3 linked regions of the Homo sapiens genome follow. The protein of the gene in region 3 purifies or fractionates together with the protein of the main gene of each other region. This does not show direct contact. Each region holds a gene or a part of one and is shown on either strand. Other genes may lie near its edges.

What was found.
Region 1: the proteins of DHX57 (region 3) and TTLL12 purify together in Homo sapiens (affinity purification with mass spectrometry; 2 studies listed by BioGRID and IntAct, with this or other methods). This does not show direct contact.
Region 2: the proteins of DHX57 (region 3) and SESN2 purify together in Homo sapiens (affinity purification with mass spectrometry; 2 studies listed by BioGRID and IntAct, with this or other methods). This does not show direct contact.

What each region holds. Positions count from the first base shown.
Region 1 is NC_000022.11:43,166,535-43,170,282, reverse strand, and holds the end of TTLL12 (tubulin--tyrosine ligase-like protein 12), read left to right. Parts: intron 1-714; coding exon 715-783; intron 784-1,370; coding exon 1,371-1,509; intron 1,510-2,123; coding exon 2,124-2,275; 3' UTR 2,276-3,661; downstream 3,662-3,748. UniProt on the Homo sapiens protein: Negatively regulates post-translational modifications of tubulin, including detyrosination of the C-terminus and polyglutamylation of glutamate residues. Also, indirectly promotes histone H4 trimethylation at 'Lys-20' (H4K20me3).
Region 2 is NC_000001.11:28,262,398-28,266,145, forward strand, and holds part of SESN2 (sestrin-2), read left to right. Parts: intron 1-3,748. UniProt on the Homo sapiens protein: Functions as an intracellular leucine sensor that negatively regulates the mTORC1 signaling pathway through the GATOR complex. In absence of leucine, binds the GATOR subcomplex GATOR2 and prevents mTORC1 signaling.
Region 3 is NC_000002.12:38,855,295-38,859,042, reverse strand, and holds part of DHX57 (putative ATP-dependent RNA helicase DHX57), read left to right. Parts: intron 1-206; coding exon 207-382; intron 383-2,581; coding exon 2,582-2,703; intron 2,704-3,748. UniProt on the Homo sapiens protein: Probable ATP-binding RNA helicase.

The sequences.
Region 1 (3,748 bases), on a different chromosome or scaffold from region 3:
AGACCCCCCAGCAGGGCCCCAGGACATTGTTGGAAGTCGCCCTCAGGTTCTGAGCCCCTCCCTTCTGTACTGTGGGGGTCATCCCGGGAGTCCTCTCCTGGAGCTCTGTGCCTGGGGAGGTACGTCCAGCATGGCATGGATGGCGGGCTTCCATAGGGGCCTTTCCTGGCTTGTTCTTTTCTGGGAGAAACCTGAGCCGACTGCCACCTTCCTCGGGTGTGTTTTGGGTAAAGTCTTGAGGCCAGAAAGATCTTGCATCCCTCAAGCACTCTTGAGCTGGTGCTGAACCAGGGCACAGGCAGGTCCCGCGGCGGAGTCTTGAGCTCTGCCTCCTTCGCACTGTACTGAGCTGAGTGTGAGGATGGTGCCAGCCCAGGCCCTGCAGTTTCTGGAGCCCTCGATGTTCATTGTCTCGCGTGAGCCTCACAGCTGCGTGGCAAAGTCAGTTTACTGGGCAGAGCACATTTTCCCATTTCACAGAGGAGGAAACAGGCTCAGAGAAGTTAATCCGTTGGTCCAGAGTCACACAGTAAGACCTGGAGCCCAGACTCCATCTCCTGCCTCCTGTTTGGACCCTGAGGGTTCGGGGTTGGCTGCCTGCTCCTGGAACCCCCACCCAGTGTCAGAAGCTCCTGGTCCAGGCAGTAGCAGGCTGCCTGCTCCCGGCCCAGCGGAGGCCTGTACAGAGCGTGATGGGCCCTGTGTCTGTTGCAGGTGCACTGTGAAGAGTTCATCCCCGAGTTTGAGAAGCAATACCCAGAATTTCCCTGGACGGACGTCCAGGTAATTCCTGTCCTGCACACCATCGCAGGCCGGTGGGGCGGGTCCCGGGCTGGGGGCCTGCAGGAGCTGCTCCCTTCCCTCTCTGCTGGCATGGGCTGGGAGGGACCTTTGTCCCCTGCAGTTGGTCATTCTCCCCAGAGGCTGGCAAGACAGCGTGGGCTCCCCTCCCTTCCACCCTGGGCATTTGTGGGTGCTCCTGAGAGGGAGGGAGCTGGAGGGGCATGTGGGGCACCCCTGGGACAGCCAGAGGGTGGCGGCACTGCCTGACCCTAGATTCCCAGTCATATGGAGACGTTGGCTGGGCCTCCATGTCCAGCAGCGGCATTCTGGGTGCTGTGTTGAGCTCCTTGGGGCAGTGGGGAGCAACGGGGTCTGCGGCAGGAGATGGGCAGATTTGCAGAAGGTGGGCGTCAGGAGTAAGAGGGCAGGTGCTGGGCGGAGGTGGCCATGGTGAGGTCTAGAGACGTGAAGATGTGGGAGGGGGTGACTTGGGCCACGTGGGGCCCGGGACTTGGGCAGGGGCAGCAGACCCCCTCTTGAGAGGCTGTTCTGAGCAGGCCTCGTAACTCAGGCTCCCCGGTCCCCAGGCTGAGATCTTCCGGGCCTTCACGGAGCTGTTCCAGGTGGCCTGTGCCAAGCCACCACCCCTGGGCCTCTGCGACTACCCCTCATCCCGGGCCATGTATGCCGTCGACCTCATGCTGAAGTGGGACAACGGCCCAGATGGTAAGAGGGGCTCCCCATCTCCTGATCCAAACCAGCAGGCGCCCCCTCCGCCAGCCAGCCACAGCCTGGAGAAGGCAGGCAGCTGCCCCAGGCTGTCCTCTGGCTTGAATCAGCCAGGAATCTGGGTTGGGGAAAGCCCTGGCTTGGCCCACAGGAAGTGCCTGCGGTGCAGAGTCTGGAGGGGAAAGGCTGCGGGTTGGGCCTCTGAGTCGGGGGAGAGCTCACAGGACAGGAGACCCGTGTGAAAGGCACCCTGACCCCAACCCACACCACCCTGGCTGGCCTTCCCTGTGCCAGACCCCCACACAGTACACTGCTGCTGCATATCTACTTTTTTTTTTTTTTACTAAACTGAACATCCAAGCTTAAAGGGCCAGGCTGTCATCCCTAGGGCTGGAGGCAGCCCTGGCCTCTCCTAGAGAAGCAGATGTCAGGCCAGGCCTCCCCAGCAAAGTCAAGAGACCCAAGTTCTAGGCCCGGCCTTGTCCTGCTCATCCCCTGGGAATCAGGGCCCAGGTTCATGGCCTCCCAGCCTTTGCTGGATCCCCAGGCCACTGTCCCTGCAGAGTGGAGGCCAACGAGCCTTCACACTCTGCTGCGCTCTTTGCCATCAGGAAGGCGGGTGATGCAGCCGCAGATCCTGGAGGTGAACTTCAACCCCGACTGTGAGCGAGCCTGCAGGTACCACCCCACCTTCTTCAACGACGTCTTCAGCACCTTGTTTCTGGACCAGCCCGGTGGCTGCCACGTTACCTGCCTTGTCTAGGCACTCGCTGTCCCCAAAACCTGTGCTTGGGGCAGGATTCCAACCTCAGTTCTCTGAGCTGCTTCTGCAAAGGCCCCCATGTCCCTCCCCACACCGGCCCTGGGCATAGCCTCAGCCCCAGGCCTCTGTCCTGCCGAGCCATCCTCCCGGCGCCACACTCCGGGAGCACAGCATCCTCCTCTCACCTGTGGGTCAGAGCAGGACAGTGATGGTGTCCCCAGGGCTGAGCACCACCCCACGCCCTGCCCTCACCCCTCACCACCATCTGTGCACTGATGAGTCTCCAGTTTAGCCAAGGGCTTTGTTCCTGGCATGGAGAATTTGTTCCTGGCTGCTGTGTTTCCAGGGGGTGCTGGGGGAAGGGTTCCGTGGAGCGAGACAAGGTGTCCTCGGGAGCAGGGTTCCACCGGGAAGCGTTTGGGAGCCCTGTATCACACGGGGCAGGCGGGTTTCTCTTCCGGGGTCTCTGCTCTTATGCATCAGGACGACCCCGGGACGGCTGTGGGGCCCCACACTGCACCCACAGGGCTCTATGCGACAGGGGCCCAGGAACAGCCTGAGGCCACCACCCAGCAAGCCCGCCTTATCACCCATTCCAGCTCACCCAGAACCTTCACCAGCAAACCTCCTGCTGAGGTCCTGGCAGGAGGCCACCGTCTTGTTACCGTTTCCTTTTCGTTTGCTGAGGGTCACAGACCCCAACAGGGAAATCAGTATCTGTCTTCCCAGTGGTTGCCCTGCTCGCCGGGCACTCCACGGGGTCCCGCCCTTGTGTGAGATGGGCCAGGATCCTTCGGCAAGGGGCGCCTGGGGCTGGGGCTGATTGTGGGCGGTGGAGCGCCAGACAGAAAAGGATTCCAATGAGAACTTCAGGTTAAAGTCAGATGCCACCTACCAGGGTCTACAGTCAAAATGTTGGCTTTTTCTTATTTTTTAATGTATGGGAGAAAAATGTAAAATTCCAGTTCTTTTCTAATTGTGTTTCTGAAATTAGGAGTCAGCTGCCAGCGTTTTTGTGTGGCTGCAGTGTGCCTGGGCCCAGCTCACGGGCAGTGGGTGGACCTAACTGCCCAGGCAGGCGAGAGCTACTTCCAGAGCCTTCCAGTGCATGGGAGGGCAGGGCTAGGTGTAGCGGTGTCTCCTCTTTGAAATTAAGAACTATCTTTCTTGTAGCAAAGCTGCACCTGATGATGCTGCCTCTCCTCTCTGTGTTGTCTGGGCCCTTGTTTACAAGCACGCGTTACCCTTCCTGAGGGGAGCCATGCTCTAGCCCCTGGAGGGCCTGTTGCAGGGGCAGGGCGGGCCCGTCGCCTTTGGCAGCTCCTGGAGAGCTGTGGACATGCAGTCCCCCTCAGTTCGTGCTGCAATAAAGGCCATCTTCTCTTATTTCTGCCCTCCTTTCTCTTTGGACCCTGGAGCCACAGGCTCAGCCTGGCCTGTCGCCCCGGCTGTCACTGAAAAGCCCCGGATACC
Region 2 (3,748 bases), on a different chromosome or scaffold from region 3:
TTTGGGAGGCCGAGGCAGATGGATTGCTTGAGCCCAGGAGTTCAAAACCAGCCTGAAACCCTGTCTCTACAAAATATACAAAAGTTAGCCAGGCGTGGTGGTGTGCGCCAGCTACTTCGAAGGCTGAGGTGGGAGGATTGCTTGAGCCTGGGAGGCGGAGGTTGCAGTGAACTGTGATCATGCCACTGCACTCCAGCCTGGGTGACAGAGCAAGAGTCTGTCTCAAAAAAAAAAAAAAAAAAAAAACCAGGCTGGGCGCGGTGGCTCGCACCTGTAATCCAAGCACTTTGGGAGGCCGAGGTAGGTGGATCACAAGGTCAGGAGATTGAGACCATTCTGGCTAATACGGTGAAACCCCGTCTCTACTAAAAATACAAAAAATTAACCCTGCGTGGTGGCACACGCCTGTACTCCCAGCTACTCCGGAGGCTGAGGTAGGAGAATTGCTTGAACCTGGGAGGCAGAGGTTGCAGTGAGCCGAGATCGCTTCACTGTACTCCAGCCTGGGTGACAGAGTGAGACTCCGTCTCAAAAAAAACAAAACAAAACAAACTTTCTCAGACATCATTTCTTCTTCAGGGAAGCCCTTCCTCCCCCACTAGATAAGTCCCCTTGCACACCCTCCTCCATTCCCTCCATTGTAGGAGCTTTGGTCCCAATTATGTGAAATAGTCCCTTGCTGGAGATACCCTGCAAGTCTCATCCCCAGCACTGCTCTTTGCACCTAATAAGTGTTCGTGACTAGTTGCCCCTTGCTGGCTTAGCTGACCCTTGTGAACTATTCCAGCCGTGGAGTCAGATCTGAATTGTGCCCATTTGGAAGAGGACCTTTCTGAGCCTCTCTGACCTGTTTCCGAAGAAGGGATTATAAGAACTGTTTCCCTCTGGGTGGTTGGGAGGAATTGGCACAATCAGATGTGTAAAGCACTTAGCGTGGTTCCCAGCTCATGATGGGCAGACAAGTGTATGGCACCACTCACTCACACCCCCTCCACCCTGCCCACTCCAAGGCTGGAGGTCCTGGGCTGCTTGGGCTGTATTTCCGTATCGTCTTCTCAGGCATAAACCCAGGAAAATATCTGAATTCAGCTGGGGGTGAGGGAAGGAGAAATAGTGTCTGTTCCTTCCCAGCTGGCAGAGTGGGTAACCAGGTGTCTGTAGCTGAGACCAGGGACTTACAGGCTCTATAAAGGATAATATAGGGTAACCGAGAATAAAGTCTGGGGCTTCTCCAAGAAGCCGATATGGGTAGTAGACAGAACCCTTGGAAGCCAGACTGAGCTGGGTTCAACTCTCCAAGGCTGGGGCTGCTTCCCAAAGCTGTTATTATGAAGTGGAATGGACCTTAGAAGCCAGGCAGCCGTGGGTTCAGATCTCAGATTGGCTACTTGTCAGCTGGTGCCTAACCTTTGAACCCTTAGTCTTGTGTGCAAAATAGAGACTCTGCCGCCGCCCCAAAACAGATGAAAATTAGATGGAACCTGTGTGCAAGTACCTGAGCTAATTTAAAAGTTAACATATAGTAAGTGCTTAAATTAGGATCCATGCCAGGCATGGTGGCTCATGCCTGTAATCCCAGCACTTTGGGAGGCTGAAGTGGGAAGATCGCTTGAGCCCAGGAGTTTGAGACCAGCCTTGGCAACACAGTGAGACCTCATCTCTATTTAAAAAAAAAAAAAAAAAAGGCCAGGCACGGTGGCTCAAACGCCCATAATCCCAGCATATTGGGAGGCCAAGGTGAGCAGGTTATGTCTCTACTAAAAATACAAAAATTAGCCGGGCTTGGTGGCGCATGCCTATACTCCCAGCTACTTAGGAGGCTGAGGCAGGAGAATTGCCTGAACTCAGGAGGCGGAGGTTGCAGTGAGCCAAGATCACGCAACTGCACTCCAGCCTGGGTGACAGAGCGAGACTCCATCTCAAAGAAAAAAAGAAAAAAAAAGAAAAAATTAGGAGCCAGGCACAGGTCTGGGGCCATTATCCTCTTTTTACAGTTTGTGTGAAGACCTTCATGTTGAATGACCACCTAAAGGGTTAACTTTAGTGTTCCTGTTGCCCCATGTGATCTGTTTAGTTGAAATTATAAAAATACCCAACACTGGTTCTCCCTCTGTCCCACACTAGCTGTTATTTTGGACAGGTGACCTGACCCCTCTGTGTTGCACTTTTCTTGTTCTGTTACGTGGAACTGGAATCATGCCTTTATCAGGTCTACTGAACCTGTACCATCCAATATGGTAACCCCTCACTACATGTGGCTATTTAAATTTAGATAAATTAAAATTAAATAAAATGAAAATTTTTTGTTGCATTTGTCACATTTCAAATGCTCAGCCACAGTGACTAGAGACTCACATTTCTTGGACAGTACAGATATAAAACATTCCATCATCGCAGAAAATTCTGTTGGACTGTGCTATGCTAGGCACTGGGGTAACAACAAAGAACTAGATTCAGTGTGTGCCCCCAAGTGTGACAGGTGCTGTGACTGGAGCTTCTCATTCTTGGTGAGTCCCAGATGCAGCAGCCTGGAGACTATTGAGACCTTGAGAAGTTTAGAGAATGGGGAATCATTTCTGCACTTGCAGAAACCTGGGTTGTATCCCAGCCCTGCTACTGCCTTCCTGCCTGAGTAGCCAGAAGTGAGTTGACCTCTCTGAGCCTTGTTCCTCATCTGTAAAATGGAAGCCCTAGTAGTAGCTTCTGCCCTAAAGTCCAGGTAGTGCATGTGAAATTAATGCTTAGCCAGTGGTAACCAGCCTTGTTATGCACCATTGTTATTACTGACTCCCCAGTCCAGGGAATTGGGCAGGGAGGGCTGACTTGGAGGGGTCATTTCTTGGCAGTGGTATGCTGCCCTGCCTGCTTCCTCTGTCAGGATCGGGGAAGCATTCAGGGTATTGGAGCCATGGATTCAAATCTACTTGGTTTTGCCTTCAGGGCTTTATACTCGCGTTCCCTCTGGCTGGAATGCTGGTCCCCCTAGTTTTTGGGGTGTGTGTTTGTTTGTTTTGAGACGGAGTTTCACTCTTGTTGCCCAGGCTGGAGTGCAATGGTGCGATCTCAGCTCACCACAACCTCCACCTCCTGGGTTCAAGCAATTCTCCTGCCTCAGCCCCCCGAGTAGCTGGGACTACAGGCATGCACCACCATGCCTGGCTAATTTTTTGTATTTTTAGTAGAGACGGGGTTTCTCCATGTTGGTCAGGCTGGTCTCGAACTCCCAACCTCTGGTGATCCGCCTGCCTCGGCCTCTCAAAGTGCTGGGATTTCAGGCGTGAGCCACTGCGCCCGGCCTGTTTGTTTTTTAAGAGAGGGTGTCCTGCTGTGTTGTCCAGACTGTTCTCAAATTCCTAGCCTCAGGTGATCCTCCACCACCAAGCCTTCCAAAGTACCGGGGTTACAGGTGTGAACCACCCCACTTAGGCCCCCTAGATCTTTACAGGCCTTGCTGTCTTCTCATCATTTAGATAACAGCTCAAAGACCACCTCCTCAATGGCTTCTCCTGTCTACTTACACTAAAATATTGCACACTCTCCCTCCCCATCATACAGTTACTGTTTATTTCACTCACTTTATAGAATCTGTGCTTTGAAATCCTGTTTATCAGATTCTGAATTATATGAAGGCCAAGGGCTTTGTCTTTTCACTGCTGTATTCTTGCTGCTTGCAATATAGCCATCAAAAATATTTGTTGAGTGAACAAATTAATTCTGTTTCCACCTAGAAAGCACTTAGCATAGTGCC
Region 3 (3,748 bases):
GTTTGTGCTTGATAAAAGTTTATTTGAGGATGCATTTTAAGTTCTTTAGAAATAGAAATACTAGAAATGAATGAACTTACTTTATTCAAGTTTTCACTTTTTCTCCATTTTGACTTTTTGTTGTTGATACTCTGTTAGACAGCGACTTTCCCCTTTTGTTAAAGAAAGGGCTCCATACTGAAATGTTTTCTTTTATTTCCTTCAAGTTGAAAAAGCATCAGAATCTGAGGAGTCAGATGAGGATGACGGTCCTGCACCTGTTATAGTAGAGAATGAAAGCTATGTGAACCTTAAGAAAAAGATTTCCAAAAGATATGACTGGCAGGCAAAGTCAGTACATGCTGAAAATGGTAAAATCTGCAAGCAGTTCCGAATGAAACAGGTAGGGTATGCTGAGAGAATGAGTAACGTTGCCTCCCTAATATCTGGATGATGGGATTAGGAATTAGGGAGCTTTGGCTACCCTCCTTAAAATTCTTCTGGTTCTTTTTCTCCCTGAGTGGTCAAAGTTTCTACAGGCCACAGCAAACTTAAGTGCATATGCTAGATGGTTTTGGAAAATCCTATAGCTGGTACATAGCAAACACACACATATATGCCAAATAGTCTCAGAGTCATGTGCCTTTGGTACTGTGACAGACAATCTGGTATGTAAAAGGAATATCAATACTGTGGTTTACTGGCCGGGCACGGTGGCTCACACCTGTAATCCCAGCACTTTGGGATGCCAAGGTAGGCAGATCACCTGAGGTCAGGAGTTCAAGACCACCCTAGCCAACATGGCAAAACCCTGTCTCTACTAAAAATACAAAAATTAGCCGGGCGTGGTGGCAGGTGCCTGTAATCCCAGCCACTTGGGAGGCTGAGGCACAAGAATTGCTTGAACTTTGGTGGTGCAGGTTCCAGTGAGCCATGATTGCACCACTGTACTCCAGCCTGGGCAACAGAGCAAGACTCTGTCTCAAAAACAAAACAAAACAAAATAAAAACAAATACTGTGGTTTAGAGCCAGGCGGGCGTGGTAACACATGCCTGTAGTCTCAGCTACTTGGAAGGCTGAGGCAGGAGGATCACTTGAGACAATGCCAGCCTGGAAAACATAATGAGTCCCTGTCTCTAAAAACAAAACAAAACAAATACTGCGATTTACCTTAGAAAAAATTAATATATAAAAGGAGAAGGATAAGGAAGGACTTTTACCCTGTTTCAAAGACTCAAAGGATAAATAATGTGCCCAAGATCGCATAGCTAGTAAGTGGTTTAGCCAATTCTGTTTCTAAAGTCCATTTTGTTTTTACCCCATTCACATGAAGATTATTTTAAAAGAATTCATAAGTGAATCCTGAGGGCAAAGTTAGAGATAGGACAGAGGCAAGTTGCTTAACCAATATGGGAATTGGATTAAATGCTCTCTAGGCCCTCCAGTTCTAAAGTTCTGTGAGTCTGATTTTTGACACCATGTAACACCATCACATATGTAGTACAATACCCAAAGAACATCACAATGTATATAAATTGCACTGTAGGTAAGATGATAGAAACAAAAAATTAGATATTCAATTTGATCAGTGTGATAAGTTTATGATAAAATTATATGTAGGAAATAGCAAGTTCCTGTAAATTTATTACAGTATTCAAAAGTATAGCCAGAGTTTTAACAAACAAGGCAATTTTTATAGCATTGGCCATTAAATATGAAATTGATTTATATAGTTGTAGTGACTGCCCAAAAATAACCCTTTAGTGAGTGCTTTTCTATTATTGATTTAGGTAAAAATCTGATATTGCTTAGAGCTACGCTGTCTGATATGGTAGCCCCTACCCATGTTTGGCTGTTTATATTAATTAATTAAAATTAAAAATTCAGTTCCTCAGTAACACTATTCTTCACATTTCAGGTGCTCAATAGCCACATGTAGCCAGGTGTTGCTGTATTGGACAGCACAGGTATAGAACATTTCCATCAACACGGAAAGTTCTATTGGACAGTACTGGTATAGAGACTCTTGTTGGGAAGAACTGGATATGTGCTAAGCAAGAGGGCTTTATTTCACCCAGAAAATCTTTCGGTTTATTCAGATGTTGGAAAACTAATGTACAGATTCCACAACTCATTCTGGCTGATTCTCTGAGCAGCATTCTGAATAAAGTCTTCTACATCCAATCCCAACAAATCCAACAAAGGATCACTCAAGGCCAGGAGTGCAAGACCATCCAGGGCAACATAACAAGACTCTGTCTCTATAATTAAAAAAAAAAAAAAGCTGTAATCCCAGCACTTTGGGAGACCAAGGCAGGTGGATTCTTGAGCACAGGAGTTTGAGGCCAGCCTGGGCAACATGGTGAAGTCCTGTCTCTACAAAAAAATACAAAAAGCCGGGTATAGTGGCACACACCTGTAGTCCCAGCTACTTGGGAGCTTGAGGCGGGAGGATCGCTAGAGCCTGGGAAGTGCAGATTGGAGTGAGCCGTGATCGCACCACTGCACTCCAGCCTGGCAACAGAGTGAGACCCTGTCTCAAAAAAAAAAAAAAAAAAAGAAAAAGTAACCCAACTGATATCTTATCTTTGATTTTATTAGGCTTCCAGACAGTTCCAGTCCATTCTGCAAGAGAGGCAATCACTCCCTGCTTGGGAAGAAAGAGAAACCATTCTTAACTTATTGCGTAAGCACCAGGTGGTTGTCATAAGTGGTATGACTGGGTAAGAATGCAGTTTATTCATCTGTAGCTTTCATCTATAAATATTATATGCACCCTGGTTACCATAACCAGTTGAACTTGTTAAAAACTGTAGCTGGATTTATAGATATTATATACATCTGCCTTGAGACATAAGGCAAAAAAATCCAGCTGAAGACTTTTAACAAGGCTCATGTTTAAATTTAAAGGATAGTTCTAGAACATTTAGCTTGAGAGCTTTTTATCTTCTGAATTTATTCTGATTTCCTGTCACGCAGGCTGGAGTGCAGTGGCATGATCTCGGCTCACTGCAACCTTTGCCTCCTGGGTTCAAGTGATTCTCATGCCTCAGCCATCCGAGTAGCTGAGATGACAGGCGCACCACTGTGGTGCACCACCATACCCAACTAATTTTTGTGTGTTTTTAGTAGAGAGGGGTGTTTTACCATGTTGGCCAGGCTGGTCTCGAACTCCTGGCCTCAAGTGATCCGCCTGCCTCGGTCTCCCAAAGTGCTGGGATTACAGGTGTGAGTCACCACACCCAGCCTTTATTTTTCTTTTAAAAACAACTTAATTATGGTGCGTTATTTTTCCTGCTTTACATTCTCCTATTTAGCAGGGACAAATTGCAGACTTCATTTATTTATTCAAGAGTATACAATTTAATAATTATATTTGTGTCCAGACTCAGTGATATGGTAATAATTCGTACCTTCTAGTTTATCTTTTTAACCTCAGCCTAATCATAGCTAAATTAATACCTATAAAATATTTTGATAATCATAAGCTAATACTCCTTTTCTTTGGGGTTCATGTGTAGAGTTTACGTTCCTAGAAGCATTTACAGACCTTAATTTAATGTCTGTTCAATAGTCCCAATTTTACAAATGTTACTAAACTATTATTTGATTGTCCTTTTGATTGGAGTGCAAATTCCTAGAATTTCCCACCTCTTGGTAATAAGTCAGGAGGTTGTTTTAGAAAATACCTGAAACTGAACAACTTTTATTCTAATTAGCTTTATCACTTTTCTCATTCCATATGATTGCTTCTTTAGTTAACTAGCC